Linked DNA regions of Homo sapiens. The protein of the gene in region 2 purifies or fractionates together with the protein of the main gene of each other region. This does not show direct contact. Each region holds a gene or a part of one and is shown on either strand. Other genes may lie near its edges. The genes, in order: ARHGAP44, ARHGEF6, ABLIM1, RBM38, NT5DC3, SLAIN2 and ARHGEF9.

Region 1 (3,500 bases), on a different chromosome or scaffold from region 2:
TCTCCTCTATTATTGAGAATGTTTTGGGTCATGATCCTATGAGTATTGGAGTAAAAGAGCCCGCGGTTGCCTGTTAATTTCTTAAATCAGTAGAAGCACATAGGATTGGAATTTGGACTTTAGGTGTGCAGTTATAAAGCACTTGATTTTTATCCTTATATTTTTCTAAAGTTTTCCTCTTTCCGAGGGAGGACTAAGAGGACTTGAAAGTCCTTCCTCATGGCTCGCCTTCCCTAAGTTGCAGGTTCTGGAGTTCTGAATATAAAACTTAAAGTCATTTTAACAATGTAGGAGTTGCCCTACTTAAACATACTCTGCTGGGTTACTAGTACTTTCTCTCGAAGTGCTCACATCCAAGTCATATTAAGGGCGTCAGCGACTATGAAAAGATTTGATAAAACCCATTGTATTTAACTGACAAAAGTTTCAGCCCCTCCTTGGTCTGTTTCCTTAGTCTGCACGTGTTCCTTCTGCTTTGAACTTTCCCCTTTCTGTCCCTTCACTTCAATCCGTCCTTTGGGAAGCACTCCCTGGCCACTGTGTGCCTCATGGTTAGGAGCACAGGCTTTCCACTGGGACAGGTTTAGTTTGTTGCTGACTATGGAATCCAGAGCTTAATTCTCTGCACATTAATTTTCTTACTTGCAAAATGGGAGTAGTTAAGGATTGCACTGTGGTAATGTGGTAACCACAGTGATAACATAGATAACCTGTGAAAAGTACCTAGCAGTGCTCAGCACTAGGAAATGCTTAATAAATGGTAGCTACAAGTATCTCTGGGCAAATGTTATGACTGTTATTGAATTATATGCACTATGGCATATGTACCTTTATTAGATGTCTACTGTGTCCCAGACACTGCTCTGGTTCAGGGAGTATTGCAGTACAGGGCAAACAAAATTCCTGTTTGCCTGGAACCTGCATTCTAGGCCGGGCGTGGTGGCTCACGCCTGTAGTCCCAGCACTTTGGGAGGCCAAGGAGGGTGGATCACCTGAGGTCAGGAGTTCGAGACCAGCCTGGCCAACATGGCGAAACCCCGTCTCTACTAAAAATACAAAAATTAGCTGGGCATGGTGGCGGGCGCCTGTAATCCCAGCTACTGGGGAGTCTGAGGCGGGAGAATCGCTTGAACCCGGGAGGTGGAGGTTGCAGTGAGCCAAGCTTGCACCACTGTACTCCAGCCTGGGCGACAGAGTGAGACTCCATCTCACACAAAAAAAAAAAAAGGAACCTGCATTCTAAAAGCATGCTATGGTAATAATGGCTCACTTGTGTTATAATTTTTATCTTTTGTCATTTACTTTCCCCACTAGACTTTAAACTCTTTGGAGGCAGGGACAGCTGCCCTAACGCTGCCCTGTATAGAAGGTCCTCTGTCATTCTTTGGCAATGGAATGAGTAAGTGAACAAAAGATCCATGCGCTATAGATAGGGGAGTCTTTTGAAGTAGTTCAAAGATGGGGAAAGCTCCTGATACCATGTTTCTTTAACGTTGTGATGGTGGTCAGAGGAGAGAGGAACAGCTGCACTTCTGGGCATTGGAAGGGCAGAGCAAGATTTACGGGAGAATTTGGTTCTTGCCTGATTGATGGCAGCATTTTTCTTTTTACCTTCAAGAGAGTCTAGCAGTTGCTGGAGTGAGAAGCATACCGAAAGGCATAGAGTATTTTTCTTGGAAGTGACATTTGCTTGATGTTGGGTGGAGCAAAGCCCTGAGCTAAAATTTGGCACCCACGAGACCCACTAAGATAAAGCAAATGGAAGAAGTAATGGTACCTTGATTTGGTGGGGAGGACTTTTTTTTCCAGTCTGCACAGTGGGTTCACAGCGGCCCCATCCTCAGAGGGCTGTCATGAGGTTGGAGGGAGCCTGGTCCACTGAAGTCCTCAACAAATGGTTGAGGTGGTTCGTTGTCACTGAACACCCATTCAAGTCTTCCAAAAATAATGTTGGCCTCCTAAGTAGAAAAGGATTCTTAGAAACGATTTCAACAGCTACTGCCCAGTGATGGTCCAAGTGGGGCTTGTCCTCTTGTTTAAAATGAGTGATGTTCAAAGTGTCTGGGAGTAGGTGAGGAACTGTGGGTGTGCGGGAAGGAGAAGGCTGGTTGGGTCGGGTTGAATTGTGTGGATTTAGAGGCTATGAGTTGGGGAGTGAAGACAAAGTTTTGTCTCTGGAGCCTTGTTTTCTATTCCTTGACTGCTTTGCATACATTGCAAAGCAGGCTTGGTTTCTGGTGCACAGCTTTGCAGGTATCATTGCTGCTGTGCAGCTCTTGGAATTCAGCTGCAGAGGCCTAGGCATTAGCCAGTGGTGGGGAGCCTGGGAACTGGAGGCTGAGGCTGCAGCAGCCTCTAGGAGCACTGGTGCTGCAGACATTTTTGTCTGGGCCAAAGCTGCCAAAGTCAGTGAGGATCTTTTCCTTGAAGGTATCTCTGAGACATTGCCCTGCCTTGTAGTAGGCCTTCTAAGAGCCGTGACCCAATCAATAGGACATTAGAGGAAAATCAGAACCAATTCCAAATTTGGCTTTGGACTGCTTTGTTCCTTCCCTTCTATTTCCCTTACTGTGAGTTAGACCTGCCAGACCAACACAGGCCCTGCCATGGGCTTCCTGTTAGCCCAGCAGGGCTGGGCGGACCCAAACTCGTCCCCCAAAGAGCGCTGTGCACATTGAATGGGTCTCAGAGCAAAGTTTTTCATTAGAGTTTTATGGAAGCCCAGGCCTTACTGCCTGTTCTGCTGTATATATGTGAGAGATAACAGAGTGTACTAACCCACCGATTACTGGGTTAGCAAATCTGGAGAGAATATTCTTTGCTCTTATCTTCTAAGATCCTCACTGTGTGGGTCTGCTGGGTTTCACCTTCTGCTGAGCTGCTGTCAGCAGTCAGCCTGAAGCTGTCTAGATTTCCTGCAGAATTCTGTTATCCCAGACCTGCAAGTCATCGTGAGGAAGCCATGCTCTTAAATAGCAATTAATCATTTTCCTTCCCAGTTTGTCTCCATCAAAGTAATTTATCAATGATTTTTTTTTTTTAATGATGGGCAATAAGGACCATTTTTTTTTTCTCTAGAGAAAGTGGATCAGTAGCCATACAAATATACTGGTAATTTATGGTCATTCCTTTTAGAGGGGATTAGTAAGTATCCCTTTTATTAATAATCAAAAGCAGTTTATTTCAAATGCTATTTGATAAAGACAGCAAATAATAAAATTATGCTACATCTGTGTGGATGTAGTTGTAGGTCAGGCAGGAGGTTGGGGGGAGAGTCAGAGAGTCAGGCCTCTTCCCTCGGGCGTGGGGCATCCAATTGAGCTGGCACCTGGAACTCCACCGCCTTTGGGAAGCTTGTGGCTGTCTAGCAATTTCAAACTCTTCTTTCTGTCCAGGAAGCAGATGTTTTGCTTTCATTTTCCAACTTTAGAGCTTATTTTTAGAATAAATGTTTATTTTCCCACAGAATTCAATTTACTTTTTTTAACCTTCATTTTGGT
Region 2 (3,500 bases):
GTGATCTGCCCACCTTGGCATCCCAAAATGCTGGGATTACAGGCATGAGCCACCACGCCTGGCCAATACTATGGTATTTTTTTTTTTCAAATAAAAACATGGTGAAGTTGCCAATGATTTCTGCATTCTAAAGCTGCCAGAAGGTTTACTTAGCTTCTTTGCAGTTCTAAGAATACTGGATGATACAGAAACACCTTCCAGGTTAGGCATTGTTCAGGATTTTTCTGATAACTAATGCTTACTCCTTTAAGCACCAATGCTTAAAATATTCTTCCACTTTGGATAGAAATATTTATTGTTTAAAAAAATTATGTTTATTACTTTTATTTTTTTATGGGACACTTCACAAATTTTTGTGTTATTCTCGTACAGGGGCCATATGAATATTCTCTGTATCGTTCCAATTTTAGTATATGGGCTGCTGAAGTGAGCACAAGATAGAAATATTTCTAAAATGTATGTCTTAATTTTCTCTCTTCTTAAATAAAAGGCACTGGAAACACTTTTATCTCTTTTTGGTAATTCATGCTGACCTGGGCATTATATGAATATTGTAATGAGGCAATATCTGACATCGTGGTTAAGCACATGCCTTCTCTAGTTTGGCAGACCTAGATTAGAATCTTGGCTTGGTCAATTACTGGCTGCATAACTCTGGGACAGTTACTTGACCTCTCTATGCTCCTTTTTCCTCATCTGTATAATGGAGACATTAATAGTATCTGCTGTATATGATTGTTTTAAGGATCAAATGAGATAATACATCCAAGGCACTTAATATAGCACTGCACATAAGGCATACACAATAGCTGTTTTCTGTGGTGTTATTACTCGGTAATGTTCTCTGCATTGTTGTGTGCAAAATTATTCTTGTAAGGTATATATAGGAGCCATATTGAGGCACTCCTAGAACCCAGAAAGAAGACTAATAAAATCAATACATAAGGAATGAGACCGAAAGCTGAGCTGGGGAGCACGAAGCAGCCAAGAAGACTCATCATCTTGTCTGAAGCTTCCAGGTAGCTGGAAGACAGACTTAAACATAAATATTTGCAAATGTCCCTGGATAGAGTCTCTCTCGGGCCCAAAGTGCCTGGCACAGTGCCTGGCATAGGACATACCTAATAGATTTTTGTTGACCCTATAAAACTGTAGATGTACAAAAAGCAAGAAGAGCAGGGCTTGACTGTTGCTTAGAACACAATATTATTTATCTAAAGAAAGCATACCGGCTTGAAATTGTCAGCTTGGAAATGCAGAAAAATGGAGCCGCAGATGCAGCACCGTACCGACAAATTGAGTACTGGGCTCTGGGGCATGGTGACGACATTAAAAAAGCTGTTGCCTTCTGGTCCTCTGGGTGGCCAGTCGGCTTCTCCAAGTAACCCCCATCTGTGTGTTCTCATATGGCTACAATGTCTTAGGGTCTTTAGAGGATCACACATTTAGTAACTGATCAGGAAAGTCTGCTGAGACATCTGGGAACAAAGTGCTCTCGGAAGCACCCCACCACCTTCTTGATAGTGTCCTTTGTAACACAATTTTTTTTGTTGTTGTTGTCTGTTTGTTTGAGACGGAGTCTTGCTCTGTCTCCCAGGCTGGAGTGCAGTGGCACAATCTTGGCTCACGGCAACTTTGGCCTCTTGGGTTCAAGTGATTCTCATGCCTCAGCCTCCCAAGTAGCTGGGATTACAGGTGCCTGCCACTATGCCTGGCTAATTTTTGTATTTTTAAGTAGAGACGGGGTTTTGCCATATTGTCCAGCCTCTCCTGGCCTCAAGTGATCCACCTGCCTCAGCCTCCCAAAAGGCTGGGATTACAGGCGTAAGCCACTGTGCCTGGCCCACAAAAATTTATTAATTAGACATTTTTGTTTTTTACTTTCAATTTTTGTGGGTACATAGCAGGTGTATATATTTGTGGGGTACATGAAATGTTGTGATACAGGCATGCAATGTGTAATAATCCCATCATGGAGAGTGGGGTATCCATACCCTCAAGCATTTATCCTTTGTGTTACAAACAATTCAATTACACTCTTTAAGTTATTTTAATAAGTACAATTATTATTGACTATAGTCACCCTGTTGTGCTATCAAATGGGCCTTATTCATTCTTTCAATTTTTTTTGTACCCATTAACCATTCCTGCCTCCTTCCCCAATATACTTCTCAGCCTCTGGTAACCTGTCTTCTACTCTCTATGCCCATTAGTTCAATTGTTTTTATTTTTAGATCCCACAAATAAGTGAGGACATGTGATGTTTGTCTTTCTGTACCTGGCTTATTTCACTTAACATAATGATCTCTAGTTCCATCCATGTTGTTGCAAATGACTGATTCTCATTCTTCTTTATGGCTGAATAGTACTCCATTGTGTATACATACCACATTTTCTTTATCCATTCATTTGTTGGTGGACAGTTAGGTTGCTTCCAAATCTTAGCTATTTGTGAACAGTACTGCAACAAACATAGGAGCGCCGTTATCTCTTCCATATACTGATTTCCTTTCTTTTGGGTAACATACCCAGCAGTGGGATTGCTGGATCATATGGTAGCTCAATTTTCAGTTTTTCGAGGCACCTCCAAACTGTCCATAATGGTTGTATTAATTTACGTTCCCACCAGCAGTGTATGAGGGTTCCCTTTTCTCCACATCCTCTCCAGCATTTGTTATTGCCTGTCCAAAAGTTTTTAATTTTGATGAAGTCAAATTCATCTCTTTTGTTGCTTGTGCTTTTGGTGTCATATCTAAGAAACTCATAATCAAATGTCTTGAAGAATTTTTTTCCTGTTTTCTCCTAAGAATAATATAGTTTTACTTCTTACATTAAGGTCTTTGATCTATTTTGAGTTAATTTTTGTATATGGTAGGAGGTACGGGTCCAAATTCATTCTTTTGCATATGCACATCCAGTTGTTTCAGTAACATTTGTTGAAAAGACAACATTAGCCAATTCCTCCATTGAACTGATTAATGTAGCTACGTAGTAAGTTTTAAAAGCGGGTCCTTCAACTTTGTTCTTCATTTTCAAAATCACTTTGGCCATTCTGGATCCCTCGCATGTCCATATGAATTTTAGGATCAGCTTGTCAATTTCTACAAAAAAGGCCAGCTGAGATTTTGATAGTGATTGTGTTCAATCTATAGATTGCTTTGGAGAGTGTTGCCATCTTAATAATATTAAATGTTTGAATCCATGAACATGGGATGTATTTCCACTTATTTGTCTTATGGGATGTATTTCCACTTATTTGTCTTTAGTTTCATTCAGCAATATTATGTACTTTTCAGTGTACATGTCTTATACCTGCTTGGTTCAATTTATTCCAAAGGATTTTATTATTTTTGGTGTTATAAAAAAATAGGATTGTTTTCTTGATTTGGTATTTAAATTGTTCACTGCAAGTGTATAGAAATATAATTATTTTTTTGAGACAAGGTCTTACTCTGTTGCCCAGGCTGGAGTGCAGTGGTGTGATTACAGCTCACTGCAGT
Region 3 (3,500 bases), on a different chromosome or scaffold from region 2:
AATATGTGAAGCTGAGTAAGAAAAAAGTAAAAAACCAATTGTTAGGAAATCAGAAGGTCCAATCCTTTAATGAAATTGGCAGTATCTTCTACCTCACAGGATAGAAATACCAAAAAAATTCAAATCATATTGGGCTCAAATGTTCAAAAATATGCCATCATATTTGCAAGGAGTGGGTGGACAGTGATATGACTGAGGAGGGAAGGGAAAGTCAAGTCCACGCGGTTGAGTGGGGGCTGAAGCTGGCTGTGCTTCCTATAGCTCTGGCATGGAGCTAAGTGTTCAGCATGCTTTATTTCTTTGAATCTTCAATATAACCCTAATAACACTATGATTATTAGTTCCATATTACAGAAGGAGAAATAGGGGCTAAGAAAAATATCCTGCCAACAGTTACTAAGCTTCTAAACAGCTGAGCAAGGATGTAAATCAGGGATATCTGAATACATTAGCCCATGCCCCAGTTGATAAGGCAGCAGTAACTGAACTGGAAGCCAACCCTGTATGTTATCAAGATCTACCAGCCATCTACAGCTGGCCTCCTGGGAGGCCTGATACAGGGTATCTGTCAATGATATGGAAGCCTGATAAGCTGCTGGGCTTGAGAGGGAGCAGCCCTGGGCTTGAATTCTGGTTCTGCAACTTAATACCTCTGTATCTCCGGACATGGTGTTTAATCTTTCTGAAGTCCTCATTTCTTCATCTATGCAGGTACAATGTTATACATTCTTATAGAGCAGAATCTCAGAATTCCAAGGAACTCTAAAGATTTGTAAACCACCGAATCCAAGATCAATGCCAGTGAGGCATCTATGAAGGGTAGCGGGAATTCCAGGTAAGGGTGTGGGCTCCGGGGTTATAATATGTGGACTTCTAAATCCTAGTCTTGCTAGTTATTGGCGTATCACGCTGGGTATGTTAACTCAATTTCTATACCAGCCTCCTGATTTCTAAAATAGAGATGAAAATGCTGCAGTTGCTAATAACAACCACATCTACTTCACTGGCATGTTGTGAACATTAAATAAAATGTTTAGCAAAAATGCTTGCATGGAGTGAACATTAAATGCATTTTTTTTTTTTGAGACAGAGTCTCACTCTCACCCAGGCTGGAGTGCAGTGGCGCAATCTTGGCTCAATGTAAGCTCAGCTTTCTGGGTTCACGCCATTCTCCTGCCTCAGCCTCCCGAGTAGCCGGGACTGCAGGAGCCCGCCACCACACCTGGCTGATTTTTGTATTTTTTAGTAGAGACGGGGTTTCACTGTGTTAGCCAGGATGGTCTCGATCTCCTGACCTTGTGATCTGCCCGCCTTGGTCTCCCCACTAAATGCATTTTTAAAGGAACTCTTAGAGGAGAAAATTATGCTCTAGCTCAGAATATGAGAGAAGAAATCTTGTGGTTTAAGAGAGAATTGGCTTATGACAAATAGATACAGGGGAAAATACACTGATAGGCTATTTCAGCCCAGTGTATAAGTCATCTTCTTCAAAAGTATCAAAAACACTGTTCATCCTCAGTTCTTGTATTGAAGATTTTTTTTCTTTTTTTTTTTGAGATGGAGTTTCACTCTTGTCGCCCAGGCTGGAGTGCAATGGTGTGATCTCAGCTCACTGCAACCTCCACCTCCCAGGTTCAAGTGATTCTCCTGCCTCAGCCTCCCGAGTAGCTGGGATTACAGGAGCCCACCACCACGCCTGGCTAATGTCTGTATTTTTAGTATAGATGGGGTTTCGCCACGTTGACCAGGCTGGTCTCAAACTCCTGACCTCAGGTGATCCGCCTGCCTTGGCCTCCCAAAGTGCTGGGATTACAGGCATGAGCCACCGCACCCGGCCTCTATTGAAGATATTAATGTAAAATCATAATGCTTAGAAAATGTCTTATTCATGTTATCTAAAAAAAAAAAAAAAAAAAAAGAAGAAGAAGAAAAGCATCATGTTTTTTAGAGGATTTCCTTTTGCTGCTTCCCTTGGAGATGAGTGTTCTAGAAGACAAACCTAGTATATGGGGATTGGCCTTCATGGATTTTGAGAACCTCCAAGGGTTCACCCATTTCCAGAAGAAAGGAAACACACATTTATGGAAGACCCATGACATGCTTATGAGCTCATTTGACATGGAGTGGGTTTCCCACACTTCCTTTCCCGTGGAATACTCTGTAGGTTCCACCACAAGTGAACAGTCAAGGCAGGTGCCTTACAAGCAGGTGGCTGGCTCTCGAATCAGGGAAGGTTGGGGGTTTGCTGCTTACCTGAGTTGATGGGAGAATCGTAGCGACTGGCTAACAGAGATGACCTTTCCCGGCTCTCTTTCTCCATCTCTTCTTTCAAGATCAACTGTCCCAGGCCTGAGTTAAGCTATTCACAGAAAAAAGGAAAAAAAAAAAAAAAAGAAAGCAAAGCTTGCAATTACTTTCATGGAGCTGCAGTTTCTTTGTAGCAGATCCCACAAGAAGTTTCTCTTGCTGGAGGGCCTGAATGCATGTGGCCCCAGAGCCTGGTAGTTCCTGAAGAGGTAGGTCAAGTTTGGGACCCTAAACCCTCTTAGCCCTTTCAGTTTCAAAGCTCCATTTCCCTAAGTCAGGCTCTGTGTTAGAAGAACGTTTTCCTTCCTCTGCTTTCCCTAAAGAGCCAGGAGACCTCAGAAGGCATGTGTGAGTGTGTGTGGATTTTTGATGTGGGAAGGGAAGACTGGGGCTGGTATCCTTTAAAAAGAAATTGCCTTGATTTGTTTAAAAACAAGAAATAAAGGTAATACATGCTAATTTTACAGATTTTGGAAAATCTAGAAGAAAAGAAGAGTAACCCATAATATGTCACTCAGAAATAACACTATCTTTTGATTTATATCTATCTAGTATTTTTGTATACACACATATAAAACTGAGATCATACTATAAATGCAACTTTGTATCCTTTGACTAATATCACGTGCATTTCCTATATGCTTAGAAAACATCATTTGAAAGGATTCAGCAGCCTCTTGACTGATAACAGACTGTCCTTCTGGGCTGCTGCAGGCCCTTGCTACAGGAAGGAGGGTATGAAGAGGACCCCTTCATGGTGGCCATTCCTTTCATTCCTTTTCTCCTGGCCCACATCCTGGGAAAAGACTTGGAGAAATGTTCAATCCCACAGTCATTCCTTCAGCAGAACTGCATGAGGGAAGGAAGGTGTGGCACTACCTGGGTGGATACCACCTTGCTCTGCCTGGCCCTCCAGCAGCCTTTCAACACATGCACTGCACACATGCCCCCATGTGGTCTCTCTTTCCTTCCCACAACAACCCAAACCTTCCACACCCCTCTGACCTCCAGCACCAATGCCATCTCCTCTAGAGCCCAGCAGGTATTCTGCCATATTCTAGTTACTATTAACAGACACCTGTCTTGCCTTGCCTGCCAGATTTCAAGCCCCTTGAAGACTGGGACCACCTCTTGCCTATCTAGATGGTTTATACATAGTAGTCATTCAAAAAATATAGATCTTATGTAACTAG
Region 4 (3,500 bases), on a different chromosome or scaffold from region 2:
AGCCTGCCCAGCCCTGGCTGCTCAAGGCTGAACTGCTTTCTCTGCCTTCTTGGGGCAGGGACTCTTGGCCTGGGAAGCAGAGGCCATTCCACGGGGGGGCTCTTTTGCCTCCCAGCTACCTGCAAAGCCGGGGCCTGCCTCAGATGCTCAGCACTGGGCACCTGCTGTGCTGGGGCACTTGGGACGCAGCAGCTGAGACCCTGCTCTTGTGGGGAAGACATTGTGCAAGGTAGATGATGAAGGGGCTTCCGATCATAAGGAAACAGAGCCGCCTGGGTGGACCCCTGAGGGGTGAGCTTTGAGCTGTGGGAAGAAGCAAGTGCATAGGTGCGAAGGTCCTGTGGTGGGAAGGAGTCGAATCTGGGAACAGAAGGAGCCCAGGGCAGTGGGAGTGTGGCCAGGGAGGGCGCAGTGCAAGTGGAGATGAGTTAGAAGAGGTAGGTTGAGGCCTAATAACGCAGGAAGCCACAAGGGAGCAGTTTGGGTTTTCTTCTGGGTACAGTGGGAGGCAGCTGGAGGGTTCTGCTTCTGGAGGTGATGGGGTGTTGATGTTTTCGTTTGTTTGTTTTTTGAAACGGAGTCTCGCTCTGTCTCCAGGCTGGAGTGCAGTATCTTGATCTCAGCTCACTGCAGCCTCCGCCTCCCGGGTTCAAGCCATTCTCCTGCCTCGGCCTCCTGAGTAGCTGGGATTACAGGCACGCACCACCACGCCCAGCTATTTTTGTATTTTTAGTAGAGATGGGGTTTCACCGTGTTGGCCAGGATGGTCTCAATCTCCTGACCTCATGATCCGCCCGCCTCGGCCTCCCTAAGTGCTGGGATTCCAGGCGTGGGTCTTGATGTTTTTAAGACAGCTCCAACTGCTGCTGGGTGAAGGATTCAGGGATGGAGGCAGGTCTCCACCACCACCAAGGCAGGGCCACGCCACTGCGCCCGCCTGGAGAGTCGGTGATGAAGGAGAGGGAGGATCGGAGAATTGAGGGATGGAAGCAGGGAGCTCCCTGTTGGATGGTGTGGGCATAGGCTGCAGTGGGGGTGAGTGGGCAGGGCAGTGCCTGGGTGGCCTGGTGGGCTCTTCACTGAGGTGGAGAGTGCAGGAGAGTCCCACCAGGGCCAGGCAGACACGTGCCCTGGCAGGCGAGCCTGTGCAGGGGACACACTTGGTGGGTGGGGCGGCGTGCAGCTACCAGGCTGTGCCCTTGTGTGCAGAGGCTGTGGCACCTGAGCTTTCTGAGCATGGCGTGTGAGTGGGGATGCTGAGGAACCTGCCTGGTGCGTGCACCCGCTCCCCATTGCCAGGCAGTGAAGCCTTGGGCCTGCGGCCGGGGCGGGGCCGCCCTTGGACAGTGCAGGGCCGGTGGTTTGGCTGCATTTTTCTTTCTCACCTGACCACTCAGTGGGTTCGCCCATGCGTGCGTGGCTGCATGAGCCCCTCTGTCTCTCTTTGCTCCCACCTGCCTTCTTTGTGGCCGCCCGGCGTGGGCACCTGTGGTCAGAGCAGCAGTGAGGATCCCTTGTCTTTGCCCTTCCCCTTCCCCATGTGGTTTCTGATGGTCCACAGTCGGGCGTCTCAGCCTTGGCACTGCGGACCTTTAGGACGGCATCGTTCTTTGTTGTGGGGGCACCCTGAGCATTGTAGGAAGCGGTCAGCACCCCTGGCCTCGACCCCTAATGTCAGCAGCACCCCCACCCGCACCTCATATTCCTAGTTGTCAGTTGTGACAACTAGGACCGTCCCTAGGCATTTTCCAGTGTCCCCTGGGGGCACAGTTGTCCTGGTTGGGAATCGCTGTTCTAGTGGCACCTCTAGGCCTCACAGCAAGCTTTTGAGGTCAGCCTCTGTAGGACCCAACTTACAGATGAGGAAACTGCGCCTTGGAAGTTTTGAAACCTGTTTGGTAACTCAGACAAGTGCAGGGGCGAGGCGCAACCCTAGGAGGGAGAGAAGCTGCTGGAACCCAGCTCCTGCCTGGCGGGGCTTCGTGGCTGCTTCTACCTTAACTTCAGCCGGTGTTCTCACTCCCCCTTGGGGCTTGAGGTGTGGCCCGTGCTGTGCCTTCCTTTTATTTTGAGCTGAACCTGGGGCCCCAGCCAGTCCTTGCAGGCACAGCTACCAGCAGCAGGCCCCACTGTACCAGTCCCTTGCTCTGCGATGGGGCAAGTCGCTTGGGGCCTCTCTGAACCTCGGATTTCCTCTCTGGGAGATGGGCTAACACTAGCATCTTTTCTATGGCTTTTTTTTTTGAGACAGAGTTTTGCTCTTTCGCCCAGGCTGGAGTGCAGTGGCATGATCTCAGCTCACCACAACCTCCACCTTCTGGTTTCAAGCGATTCTCCTGCCTCAGCCTCCCGAGTAACTGGGATTACAGGCTCCCGCCACCACACCTGGCTAATTTTTGTATTTTTAGTAGAAATAGGGCTTCGCCATGTTGGCTAGGCTGGTCCTGAACTCTTGACCTCATGATCTGCCCGCCCCAGCCTTCCAAAGTGCTGGGATTACAGGCGTGAGCCACTGCGCCCAGCCTTCCGTGGCTTTGAAAATGCTTCGTAAGTTATCCCAGGCCCTTTACGTACAGAAAGATGAGTAGATACCGACATGCAGTGTCTGCAAGGGTCAGGAAACAGGAGAGCCCCGCCTTCCTCCCCAGCCTAAACATTGCTCACCCACGCTTGTGTTTGAGTGTCCCTGAGTAGGGCAGCTCCTTGGTGGCCAAGGCAGCGCTCTGGCCCCGATGATGTGGGGCATCAGAACCCGATAGAAATGACGCAGCCCTCGAGGTGAGTGTGGCCGGAACCCAGCTGCCCCACAGCCCCAGGCACTTGTGTTCTGTGTCCCTGGTCTGGGCAGCGGTTCTTGAATGCAGCTGTGGATCAGGACCCCGGGGCCTGTTCTTGCACATTCCTGGGCCCCATCTGCCTTTGCAGTCTGCATGGGATCCACATTTTTAGCAAAACCTTGCGGGGAGATGTCTGAGGCAGGGGCATCACTGCCCATGTTTGGAGAAGGTGTGTGGGTTCAAAGCTTCCATAGCCTCCTACTAAGGAATGTTTTCGAGGTTCTGAGAGCTGGGTCGGGGGGGCACTGATGATGCCAGGGACAGCCTGCTGGGCACAGCCCCAAGACAGTCCTTGCTGTGTCTCCACTCGCCCCCTTCCCAAGGGAGGCCTCCGAGACCCTTCTGGGGCCCCCTGCCTCCGCTGGCCAGAGCTCCTCATCCTTCTCAGTGGGGTCTGTGCCACCCACCGGGCCTTTGTTCCGTCAGCACCATGTGCCCAGTGCCTCCTACAGGCCTGGTCCTGGCAGAGAGCTGGGAGTCCAGACAGAGCCATCTCCCTGACAGAACGCCATCCAGTGGGGCATCGGGCAGCGTAGCGAGGTGAGGGGCTGGCCTCCATGTGGGGTTGGGCCTCGCCAGGTTAAGGGCTCCAGGCAGAGGCATTGGCAGGTGCCAGGCCCAGGTGGGGAGGATGCGAGGGATTGAGGCGCTGTGGGGCATGGG
Region 5 (3,500 bases), on a different chromosome or scaffold from region 2:
ATTCCAGACCTAGTGTTTCTGCAGGGGTTGTGACTCACGGCAATTATTTCCAGAACTGAAACTTTCTTGGAATGAAATGATCAAAGGCTGGGGCCAAATAGGTTTTAATTAAATGTAATTCATTGAATTCAGCTTGGTGAATAACTAACCATTACCATCAAAAAGTAATTAAATGAATGCCTCTCATGTCTGGGAAAATAATGACATAGTTTAGATTCTGTTGAGACTGACGTTGACTTTTCGTGATCTTTGTGATCAGGATTTGACCCTAAAGCATGGCTGGAGGACTGGTGCAATCATCCCAGAGTTGAGATCTGAGCTCAAAATCATGAACACGGAGCAATACATTCAAACCATGACCTGGCTGCAGACCTTGACTGGCTTATTGGAACAGATGCAGGTTTGGATATATTATTTTTCTCTCTCACTTTTTCTTTAAGCCTGAGGTTAGAAAGTTACTTCAGGTATTTTCTGCTTAATTGTTATAAAATATGAGGCTTAAGTTGTTTTCAGTAGACTGTAGAATAACGATTGGGGTTCTTTTGCCTAGACAGTGTTTGTGGGGCCTTTGTTAATGCAGGTGTTTGCTCACATTCCTCTGTCAGTGAAGATCCAGTGTCCTCACTTCCACACTGAAGCCTGCTAGGAGCTCTCCTGTGGGATGCTGGGATTCAGGAAGCCCTGCCAGTGCTTGAGTCTGTGCTGGTTCTGTCTGCACCTGCTACGGTGGGACTTCTCCATTCTGGGCCTCAGTTTCCCCATCTGTGAAATAAAGGGGCCGCTGGAACGAAAACTTCAGTCTAGGCACCATGGCTTACTGGAAAGAGTCTCAAAGCAAGAGTCAAGATCCCTGGGTCCAGCCTCAGTTGATTCTGAGGATAATACCTGCAGTTTGCTGGCTTACTGGAGTTCCCTGGCAGTTACTTCCTTAAGTTAAGTTAGGCAGCCAGTTTTGGCTGGTAAGTGAGGAATGGCAGTTTTATCAGTCGTTTCCTGGCCCATGGAAGCTGCCTCTCTTTTGTAGCTGTATCCCCTTAATTCTCCATGTGCCCCTTTCCTTTCCAGTTCCATGAGGCACCTTGCTTTCTCCCTGGCTCCAGCTTGCCTGGGCTACAGCCGTCTCAGCATGGGTGCTGACATTTTTAGGATCTGGGCACAGGTGCTTGCTCTCTTGGCTAACACACCTGCAACCTGTGGCCACAGCCTATTGCCCATGCCTGCCCTCTGGCTTTGGAAATGGGCAGGGAATTGCCTTGCCTGCCCCAGCTGGCACTCTGCTTGGGAGTGGCTGAGCAGTGAGATCAGGCAGGGCCATGAGTGGCAGGCCAGATTCTGGCTCCAGGTGCATGCATTCCAGAGCATGGGGCCCTGCACGTCCCCCTGGGCCTTGTTTCCAGGATGCACTGGGCTCCATTAGTTCTTGGCTCTTCTCTGATGAGAATCCTCTGATGAGGATTTATTCTGTTTCCCTCGCTATGCTTGTCTGTGAGATGATTTACTAAAAATATACAGTGTCAATTCTGAGTTAGTGTAGTTTAGAGTCTGTGCATGTCATACACTACTAATAGTTACTTTTTATGTGCTGGACACTGTGCTGAGTGCTGGCTCTATACACTTTGCTCATTTAATAGTCACAGCTGTCCCTTGCAGGTAGGTACAATTTTCCCATTTTAGAATAAGGAAACAGTTTTTGAGAGGTTAGGTATCATTCATGTCTGAGGTCATAAAATGGCAGGGCAGGGCTTGAACCAAGTCCCCAAGTCCATGCTTCAGAGCACTGCTCTAATGTGCCTTCCTGTTTAGAGGATTCGGGTATAGGCAAGGCTTGACTCACCCTCAGTGAAATCTCTGTGACCCTGGCAGCTGGTCATAGGTACAAACACAACTGCACGTAGATGGTATCAGTATATTTTAGCTTTGGAAAGAGGTTTTTTTTTTTTTTGGTTTTATTTTGTTTTCCTTTTTCTGACCTGTGTAAAAAGTTGACTACTAAGGAATGTGTGTTTTAGAGAATGGAAGTGCTGAAAATATTTCTGTGGTTTGTAAAATTAATTATATGAGGTGTGGGGTAAGGGAAGGAAGAAAAGGGAGTTGAGGTTTACATAGCTGCCCCCATTTTGCAGGAGAGAAAACTGAGACAGCGAGATAGGTGACTTTTCTAGAATCACAGTTCTCGGTTGGCAGAATCAGGCTATGTAGAAATGTCGTAAGAACTTACCGTGTTCTGGACACTGAGACCTTTAAGTTCATTTCATCTTCACAGAAACTCTTTGAAGTAGTTCTGAAACATCACTGCCATTTTACTGATGAAGACCCTGAGGCGCAGAGGAGATATAACTTGCTCTAGTGAGGGGTGATGCTGGTGTTTACACACAGGCCGACCGACTCTAGACCCTTAACCTCTGTGCACCTATATTGATTGCCTTGGGTTCTGGCACTTTGTACAGAGTTCTGTCAGGTTGGATTCACTAGGATATAGAGGTGTATAGCTGCTAACTAAAAAAACATCCAAATCAGTGTCCTATCTCACTGTCACCCTCTTCCTCAGTGTTCCCTTAGAAAGTTATAAGTTATTCCACTGAGCCTGTGGTAGATGTTTCTAGAACTCCCCCTTGGGGATTATTTTCAGAGCATGTAGCACATTATTTGGACAGTTTTCTGAGGAGAAAAATTGGTCCTCTGAGATTGGGTTTGATTTTTTCAGAGCCAGTAGAGTGTCATTTTTTTGTTTGTTTGTTTGTTTGTTTTTGAGATGGAGTCTTGCTCTGTCGCCCAGGCTGGAGTGCAGTGGCGCGATCTTGGCTCACTGCAGCCTTCACCTCCCAGGTTCAAGCAGTTCTCCTCTCTCAGCCTCCCAAGTAGCTGGGACTACAGGCTTGTGCCACCACGCCCAGCTAATTTTGTATTTTTAGTAGAGATGGGGTTTCACCATGTTAGCCAGGCTGGTCTCAAACTCCTGACCTCACAGAGTGTCATTTGGAGCCGAGTCTCATGAATGAAATAGAAGTATATAAATTTTGGTTGTAATTTCATTAGTTAGCCTTGAAGTGCATTCCAAAATGGCTGTGGTTCATGGTGGTGGTGCTGGCATTGGTAGCCGCTTCTCAGGTAACCAACCAGTCAGAGGCCACATTTAGACCACAGGTCAGCAAGCTTCTGCAAAGGGCCACATGGTAAATATTTTAGGCTGTGCAGGCTGTAGGCTCTGTTGCAGCTACCCACCTCTGCACTTGTAGCACAAAAGCAGCCGTGGACAGTATGTGAATGAATGGTTGTAGCTGTGTCCCAATAAACTTTATTGGTGGACACTGAAATTTGACTTTCATGTAATTTTTACATGTTAGGAAATTCTTCTCTTTTTTTTCTTTTGAGGCAGTCTCACTCTGTTGCCCAGGCTGGAGTGCAGTGGCATGATCTCAGCTCACTGCAGCCTCTGCCTCCCAGGCTCAAGTGATTCTCATGCCTACCCTCCTGAGTAGCTAGGATTACAGGTGTGCACC
Region 6 (3,500 bases), on a different chromosome or scaffold from region 2:
AAGCAATGCAATTGGTGTGGTATTTTTTTTTTTTTTTTTTTTATTATACTCTAAGTTTTAGGGTACATGTGCACATTGTGCAGGTTAGTTACATATGTATACATGTGCCATGCTGGTGCGCTGCACCCACTAATGTGTCATCTAGCATTAGGTATATCTCCCAATGCTATCCCTCCCCCCTCCCCCGACCCCACCACAGTCCCCAGAGTGTGATATTCCCCTTCCTGTGTCCATGTGATCTCATTGTTCAATTCCCACCTATGAGTGAGAATATGCGGTGTTTGGTTTTTTGTTCTTGCGATAGTTTACTGAGAATGATGGTTTCCAATTTCATCCATGTCCCTACAAAGGATATGAACTCATCATTTTTTATGGCTGCATAGTATTCCATGGTGTATATGTGCCACATTTTCTTAATCCAGTCTATCATTGTTGGACATTTGGGTTGGTTCCAAGTCTTTGCTATTGTGAATAGTGCCGCAATAAACATACGTGTGCATGTGTCTTTATAGCAGCATGATTTATAGTCCTTTGGGTATATACCCAGTAATGGGATGGCTGGGTCAAATGGTATTTCTAGTTCTAGATCCCTGAGGAATCGCCACACTGACTTCCACAATGGTTGAACTAGTTTACAGTCCCACCAACAGTGTAAAAGTGTTCCTATTTCTCCACATCCTCTCCAGCACCTGTTGTTTCCTGACTTTTTAATGATAGCCATTCTAACTGGTGTGAGATGATATCTCATAGTGGTTTTGATTTGCATTTCTCTGATGGCCAGTGATGATGAGCATTTCTTCATGTGTTTTTTGGCTGCATAAATGTCTTCTTTTGAGAAGTGTCTGTTCATATCCTTCACCCACTTTTTGATGGGGTTGTTTGTTTTTTTCTTGTAAATTTGTTTGAGTTCATTGTAGATTCTGGATATTAGCCCTTTGTCAGATGAGTAGGTTGCGAAAATTTTCTCCCATGTTGTAGGTTGCCTGTTCACTCTGATGGTAGTTTCTTTTGCTGTGCAGAAGCTCTTTAGTTTCATTAGATCCCATTTGTCAATTTTGGCTTTTGTTGCCATTGCTTTTGGTGTTTTGGACATGAAGTCCTTGCCCACGCCTGTGTCCTGAATGGTAATGCCTAGGTTTTCTTCTAGGGTTTTTATGGTTTTAGGTCTAACGTTTAAATCTTTAATCCATCTTGAATTGATTTTTGTATAAGGTGTAAGGAAGGGATCCAGTTTCAGCTTTCTACATATGGCTAGCCAGTTTTCCCAGCACCATTTATTAAATAGGGAATCCTTTCCCCATTGCTTGTTTTTCTCAGGTTTGTCAAAGATCAGATAGTTGTAGATATGCGGCATTATTTCTGAGGGCTCTGTTCTGTTCCATTGATCTATATCTCTGTTTTGGTACCAGTAGCATGCTGTTTTGGTTACTGTAGCCTTGTAGTATAGTTTGAAGTCAGGTAGTGTGATGCCTCCAGCTTTGTTCTTTTGGCTTAGGATTGACTTGGCGATGCGGGCTCTTTTTTGGTTCCATATGAACTTTAAGGTAGTTTTTTCCAATTCTGTGAAGAAAGTCATTGGTAGCTTGATGGGGATGGCATTGAATCTGTAAATTACCTTGGGCAGTATGGCCATTTTCACGATATTGATTCTTCCTACCCATGAGCATGGAATGTTCTTCCATTTGTTTGTGTCCTCTTTTATTTCCTTGAGCAGTGGTTTGTAGTTCTCCTTGAAGAGGTCCTTCACATCCCTTGTAAGTTGGATTCCTAGGTATTTTATTCTCTTTGAAGCAATTGTGAATGGGAGTTCACCCATGATTTGGCTCTCTGTTTGTCTGTTGTTGGTGTATAAGAATGCTTGTGATTTTTGTACATTGATTTTGTATCCTGAGACTTTGCTGAAGTTGCTTATCAGCTTAAGGAGATTTTGGGCTGAGACGATGGGGTTTTCTAGATAAACAATCATGTCGTCTGCAAACAGGGACAATTTGACTTCCTCTTTTCCTAATTGAATACCCTTTATTTCCTTCTCCTGCCTGATTGCCCTGGCCAGAACTTCCAACACTATGTTGAATAGGAGCGGTGAGAGAGGGCATCCCTGTCTTGTGCCAGTTTTCAAACTATCTCTCAGACCACAGTGCAATCAAACTAGAACTCAGGATTAAAAATCTCACTCAAAGCCGCTCAACTACATGGAAACTGAACAACCTGCTCCTGAATGACTACTGGGTACATAACGAAATGAAGGCAGAAATAAAGATGTTCTTTGAAACCAACGAGAACAAAGACACCACATACCAGAATCTCTGGGACGCATTCAAAGCAGTGTGTAGAGGGAAATTTATAGCACTAAATGCCTACAAGAGAAAGCAGGAAAGATCCAAAATTGACACCCTAACATCACAATTAAAAGAACTAGAAAAGCAAGAGCAAACACATTCAAAAGCTAGCAGAAGGCAAGAAATAACTAAAATCAGAGCAGAACTGAAGGAAATAGAGACACAAAAAACCCTTCAAAAAATCAATGAATCCAGGAGCTGGTTTTTTGAAAGGATCAACAAAATTGATAGACCGCTAGCAAGACTAATAAAAAAAGAGAGAAGAATCAAATAGACACAATAAAAAATGATAAAGGGGATATCACCACCGATCCCACAGAAATACAAACTACCATCAGAGAATACTACAAACACCTCTACGCAAATAAACTAGAAAATCTAGAAGAAATGGATAAATTCCTCGACACATACACTCTCCCAAGACTAAACCAGGAAGAAGTTGAATCTCTGAATAGACCAATAACAGGCTCTGAAATTGTGGCAATAATCAATAGTTTACCAACCAAAAAGAGTCCAGGACCAGATGGATTCACAGCCGAATTCTACCAGAGGTACAAGGAGGAACTGGTACCATTCCTTCTGAAACTATTCCAATCAATAGAAAAAGAGGGAATCCTCCCTAACTGATTTTATGAGGCCAGCATCATTCTGATACCAAAGCCGGGCAGAGACACAACCAAAAAAGAGAATTTTAGACCAATATCCTTGATGAACATTGATGCAAAAATCCTCAATAAAATACTGGCAAACCGAATCCAGCAGCACATCAAAAAGCTTACCCACCATGATCAAGTGGGCTTCATCCCTGGGATGCAAGGCTGGTTCAATATACGCAAATCAATAAATGTAATCCAGCATATAAACAGAGCCAAAGACAAAAACCACATGATTATCTCAATAGATGCAGAAAAAGCCTTTGACAAAATTCAACAACCCTTCATGCTAAAAACTCTCAATAAATTAGGTATTGATGGGATGTATTTCAAAATAATAAGAGCTATCTATGGTGTGGTATTTTTAATCTTGATTTCTAATGTTCGTTGCTGGCATATAGAAACATAGTCAGTGTTTGTATTTTTATCCAGTTCTGTGACCTTACTGAATTCACTTATTATTTCTAGAAGTGTGTGTGTGTGTAGATTCATTGGGATTTTCTGTGTA
Region 7 (3,500 bases), about 73 Mb from region 2:
TCACACTAGAATTGTTAGAACTCTCTTGTTGCTGTTCTTATAGATCCATTAGAAATATACACATAGAGAGGGGGGGAAAAAGAGAGAATAATTAGATGTCTGTCTTAGGACTCCCCACAGCAGGTCCCATTGAACACACTAGCAAAGCCTTTTGGAGAGCAAATCCTGGCCTCACTGAGTTGAGGAAAAGGGAGCTCAGGGCCATGCGGAAATTACAACATTACAGAATTACTGGGGTTACCATTGCTGTCAGGACATAACAGGTTAGGATACTGAACCCAGGTATTTAATTGGGCTCCCCTTGGGGCTGTTGGCCACTGGTCTGCTTTGATGCTATAGGCTGAGGGAATACTCCAACCAATGGGGAAATGATTTCTTGTTGTTCACAAATTAGTGGCATCAGGTGATGCCAGTGGGTTCAGTAGAGGAGAAGTGCGGGTTGAGAAGTAATATCCCTGATCCTGGAGCCCTGGGCAGAAGCCCCAAGGAGGGAGGAAATGAGAGGGCCTAGTCAAGAAATGTAGGCCCAGAAACTTGTCCAAGCATCCCCTCCCGGTGTGCTGCCAACCCTCGAAGAAGCATGTCAAGGCCAAGCCTAGTAAGGAGGAGTGAGAAGTTGGAAAAAGAGGTACACTGAAGGGAGGCCTGCATAGCTACCAAAACACTCTGCCAGACAGGATATTTTAGCCTGGGTGCTGGGCACCAGGACCCTTGCCAAAGAGGCTTACGTAGTTAGGTCATGTGCTGAACAGTGGTGGCCAGTCCCGAGCCCCGGCCCTCTCCCCAGATCAGGCTCATCCTTGACTTATAATACAAGTCTGACTTGGTTGTGATGGAATATAAACTTAAATAGCTTGTAATTTGATTCCCACAAAGAAAAGATTCCCAGGCTGGGCAATGCCTGGTCTGGATCAGGAGGCATAGAGCAGTAAACATGCTAGCTATGCTGAAGCCTCCACACAGCTATGGCTGCTGCTTGGTAAGCTGAAGTCCTGTCATGATGAAGTCTTCTCCCATGGGGTTTAGGACAGACTCCCAGTCTCCACATTCCTCACTACAGTGGCTTGCTCTTCACAGCAGAGTTCATCCTTATTCCCTTATACCCTTTTTGTTGTTCAAGGTCTATCCATGAAAAGGGCTATGTGTGGAGGAAAAACAGGTACTCCAACATCCATAGGAAGCCTGCCTCCTTGTGAAAGAAGTTAGATTTTCCCAAGCAAAAAGCTGGCCAAAAGCGAGCCTGAGGGTAGCATCCCTGCCTCAGACACGTTATTCAGAGGGAAAATTGCCCCTGGGCCCCTAACTCACTTGCCCCAAATGTCCTGGGATGAGAGGATGTTGGAAACACGGCCTTCTTTGAGTGCCAGAACAGCTTTAACTATATCAATACCAAAAATCCTCCTGTGCTAGGATGGCAGGAGAAAGAAGAAAGAGAGAGGGAAAGAAAGAAGCCAGGGAAGATTGTCCATGCAATCTGTTAACAATGGGAGAAGTCTCACACAATTTTAGGGTGGTAGAAAATGCAGGTACAATACTGTGGATCAAGGCTATCTCTTTCCATTCCCATCCCTGTTCTTTCTTGTAAAAGGTTACTATCAGACTTGGACCCTGTCCAGGTCAATAATTTGAAGGTAGCTGATGATCTTGATCAGGTGGGCTCTGTCTTGAACCCCTCCATACTTCTATCAATGCTGCCCAAACATCTGTAAATGGGAGCAGGGACAACCAGGACACTGAACTGATTGCTGTAGAGATCACTGCCCTAAACCTATCTGGTACTAGGGGGCAGGTAAATCCCTCTCCTGGGAGGCAGAATCTCAACCTCTGCTTCCAGTTCAGATCTTTTGGGCTAAGGGAGAGACAGGCCTAGGGGGAGACCTATAACAAAAGTGACTTGAAAAAAGAGAATAACTCGATCAAACTAACTCCTAGATGCAAAATTGCAACGACCCAGAAGTGCTGCAACATGGGAAACCCCAGTGATAGAAGAAACAGCCTGAATGCAAAATGTTCCCTGAACAGAAGTCCACTCCAGCATCATCATAGTCTGATACTCCCTTGCTTCTGTTTGGTTTTTTGATCCCTTCACAGTACCTAAAACACAGTAAAAGCAATAGGAATACTGAGCAGTTTTGTCACAGGGCACAACAGAGCATGTCCAGACTGGCATGACTGAGGACAGAGGATGCTGAAAAAAGGTTATTTGGGGCAACTGCAGGGCTGAAGGAACATTTGATAATGATTGGCTGAAGGAGAGGAGAAAGGAGCTCATTCCCTTCCTCAATGGAAAGTAAAAGAGGGGAAAAAACCCTGAAACCTCCCAACTCTACCACATCAAATAAAATTAAAAATTCATCAACATCAGTATCATCAGAAAAAAAACAATACAAACACATCTATCGTAATAATGACAAGGCAGTGAATCACTCACAGGGGAGTAAAGAGATTATCTTAACAAGAAAAGCAATGAATAGAAATGTCAACTTCTGAAAGCAAAGGGAAGGGGGACAGGGTAAAAATGGAAAACTTTTAAGACGGAATCACATGTTTGGAAGTCATTGGTACCTCTTCCTACCAACCACATATTTCACTTCCCCAAAACAACAGAAAACACTTTTGTTCCTTATCTCTCTGTGTGTGTGTGTGTGTGTGTGTGTGTGTGTGTGTCTGTGTGTGTGTGTGTGTATGTGTACTCAAGGGTCTCTGTGTGTGTGTGTGTGTATAAATTTCAACAGTGCTTCTCCGAAAAAAGGTCCATCTATAAATATAATTTTATTTACTTTATTTTAAAATTATCTGCCTCCCTGTAGGTATCATTTTTTGAAGGGGGTTAACCTGCTGAAGTTTTGCCAGAATGGTGACTGGCTGCGCTTGGGTTCGGTGAACTCAAAGACCTGCGACTGAGCGATGCCGTCGGGGACCAGGTACTGGCCGTGGTTTAACGGGTCCTGCGGTGGTGGGTAGGAAGGAGGAACTGAGCGGGCAGAGTTGACACCTAGAGTAGATGAGAGATCAAAGGGAAAGGGTATAAGTTATGTAACAAAGGGCTTCTCAAATTACCCAGTGACCACTCTGGGCAGACAACTCAAGGCAGACTGGTTTAGAGAGTGTGAACTGGTTTTACAAATCATCCAAGGGGAGAATTCCTCTTTCAAACAGATTTTGGAATACCATGGCTACTATTGCAACCCTACACACTTCCACATCTAGTCAGGTATCAAAGAAATTTGGGGTATTGCTATAATCTGTTTTACAGGTGAGAACACTGATATCTGAAAAGAAATGTTATACCCAAGGTCACATGGTAAGTTAGCGACAAAGCAAGGGTTAGAACCTACATTCTTTGACTACTCAGTTCAGAGCTCTTTCCAAGACACCAGAATCCCTTATGCAGGGGTTGGTCCTGCAAAGAACCCAACAAACTCTATTTCGCCTTCTCCAGTCCCCCCTGGAAGTTTTAAAAGAGCCTGGTTAAGAACTATTGACTTCAGGACAGGTTT

What was found.
Region 1: the proteins of ARHGEF6 (region 2) and ARHGAP44 purify together in Homo sapiens (affinity purification with mass spectrometry; one large-scale study listed by BioGRID and IntAct). This does not show direct contact.
Region 3: the proteins of ARHGEF6 (region 2) and ABLIM1 purify together in Homo sapiens (affinity purification with mass spectrometry, with the first as the bait; one large-scale study listed by BioGRID). This does not show direct contact.
Region 4: the proteins of ARHGEF6 (region 2) and RBM38 purify together in Homo sapiens (affinity purification with mass spectrometry; one large-scale study listed by BioGRID and IntAct). This does not show direct contact.
Region 5: the proteins of ARHGEF6 (region 2) and NT5DC3 purify together in Homo sapiens (affinity purification with mass spectrometry; one large-scale study listed by BioGRID and IntAct). This does not show direct contact.
Region 6: the proteins of ARHGEF6 (region 2) and SLAIN2 purify together in Homo sapiens (affinity purification with mass spectrometry; one large-scale study listed by BioGRID and IntAct). This does not show direct contact.
Region 7: the proteins of ARHGEF6 (region 2) and ARHGEF9 purify together in Homo sapiens (affinity purification with mass spectrometry; one large-scale study listed by BioGRID and IntAct). This does not show direct contact.

What each region holds. Positions count from the first base shown.
Region 1 is NC_000017.11:12,792,498-12,795,997, forward strand, and holds part of ARHGAP44 (rho GTPase-activating protein 44), read left to right. Parts: intron 1-3,500. UniProt on the Homo sapiens protein: GTPase-activating protein (GAP) that stimulates the GTPase activity of Rho-type GTPases. Thereby, controls Rho-type GTPases cycling between their active GTP-bound and inactive GDP-bound states. Acts as a GAP at least for CDC42 and RAC1.
Region 2 is NC_000023.11:136,770,933-136,774,432, reverse strand, and holds part of ARHGEF6 (rho guanine nucleotide exchange factor 6), read left to right. Parts: intron 1-3,500. UniProt on the Homo sapiens protein: Acts as a RAC1 guanine nucleotide exchange factor (GEF).
Region 3 is NC_000010.11:114,441,776-114,445,275, forward strand, and holds part of ABLIM1 (actin-binding LIM protein 1), read right to left. Parts: intron 2,360-3,500; coding exon 2,254-2,359; intron 12-2,253; coding exon 1-11. UniProt on the Homo sapiens protein: May act as scaffold protein. May play a role in the development of the retina. Has been suggested to play a role in axon guidance.
Region 4 is NC_000020.11:57,401,396-57,404,895, forward strand, and holds part of RBM38 (RNA-binding protein 38), read left to right. Parts: intron 1-3,500. UniProt on the Homo sapiens protein: RNA-binding protein that specifically bind the 3'-UTR of CDKN1A transcripts, leading to maintain the stability of CDKN1A transcripts, thereby acting as a mediator of the p53/TP53 family to regulate CDKN1A.
Region 5 is NC_000012.12:103,782,235-103,785,734, reverse strand, and holds part of NT5DC3 (5'-nucleotidase domain-containing protein 3), read left to right. Parts: coding exon of another isoform or gene 1-59; exon of another isoform or gene 60-127; intron 128-259; coding exon 260-400; intron 401-3,500.
Region 6 is NC_000004.12:48,414,529-48,418,028, forward strand, and holds part of SLAIN2 (SLAIN motif-containing protein 2), read left to right. Parts: intron 1-3,500.
Region 7 is NC_000023.11:63,635,215-63,638,714, forward strand, and holds part of ARHGEF9 (rho guanine nucleotide exchange factor 9), read right to left. Parts: intron 2,996-3,500; coding exon 2,814-2,995; 3' UTR 1-2,813. UniProt on the Homo sapiens protein: Acts as a guanine nucleotide exchange factor (GEF) for CDC42. Promotes formation of GPHN clusters.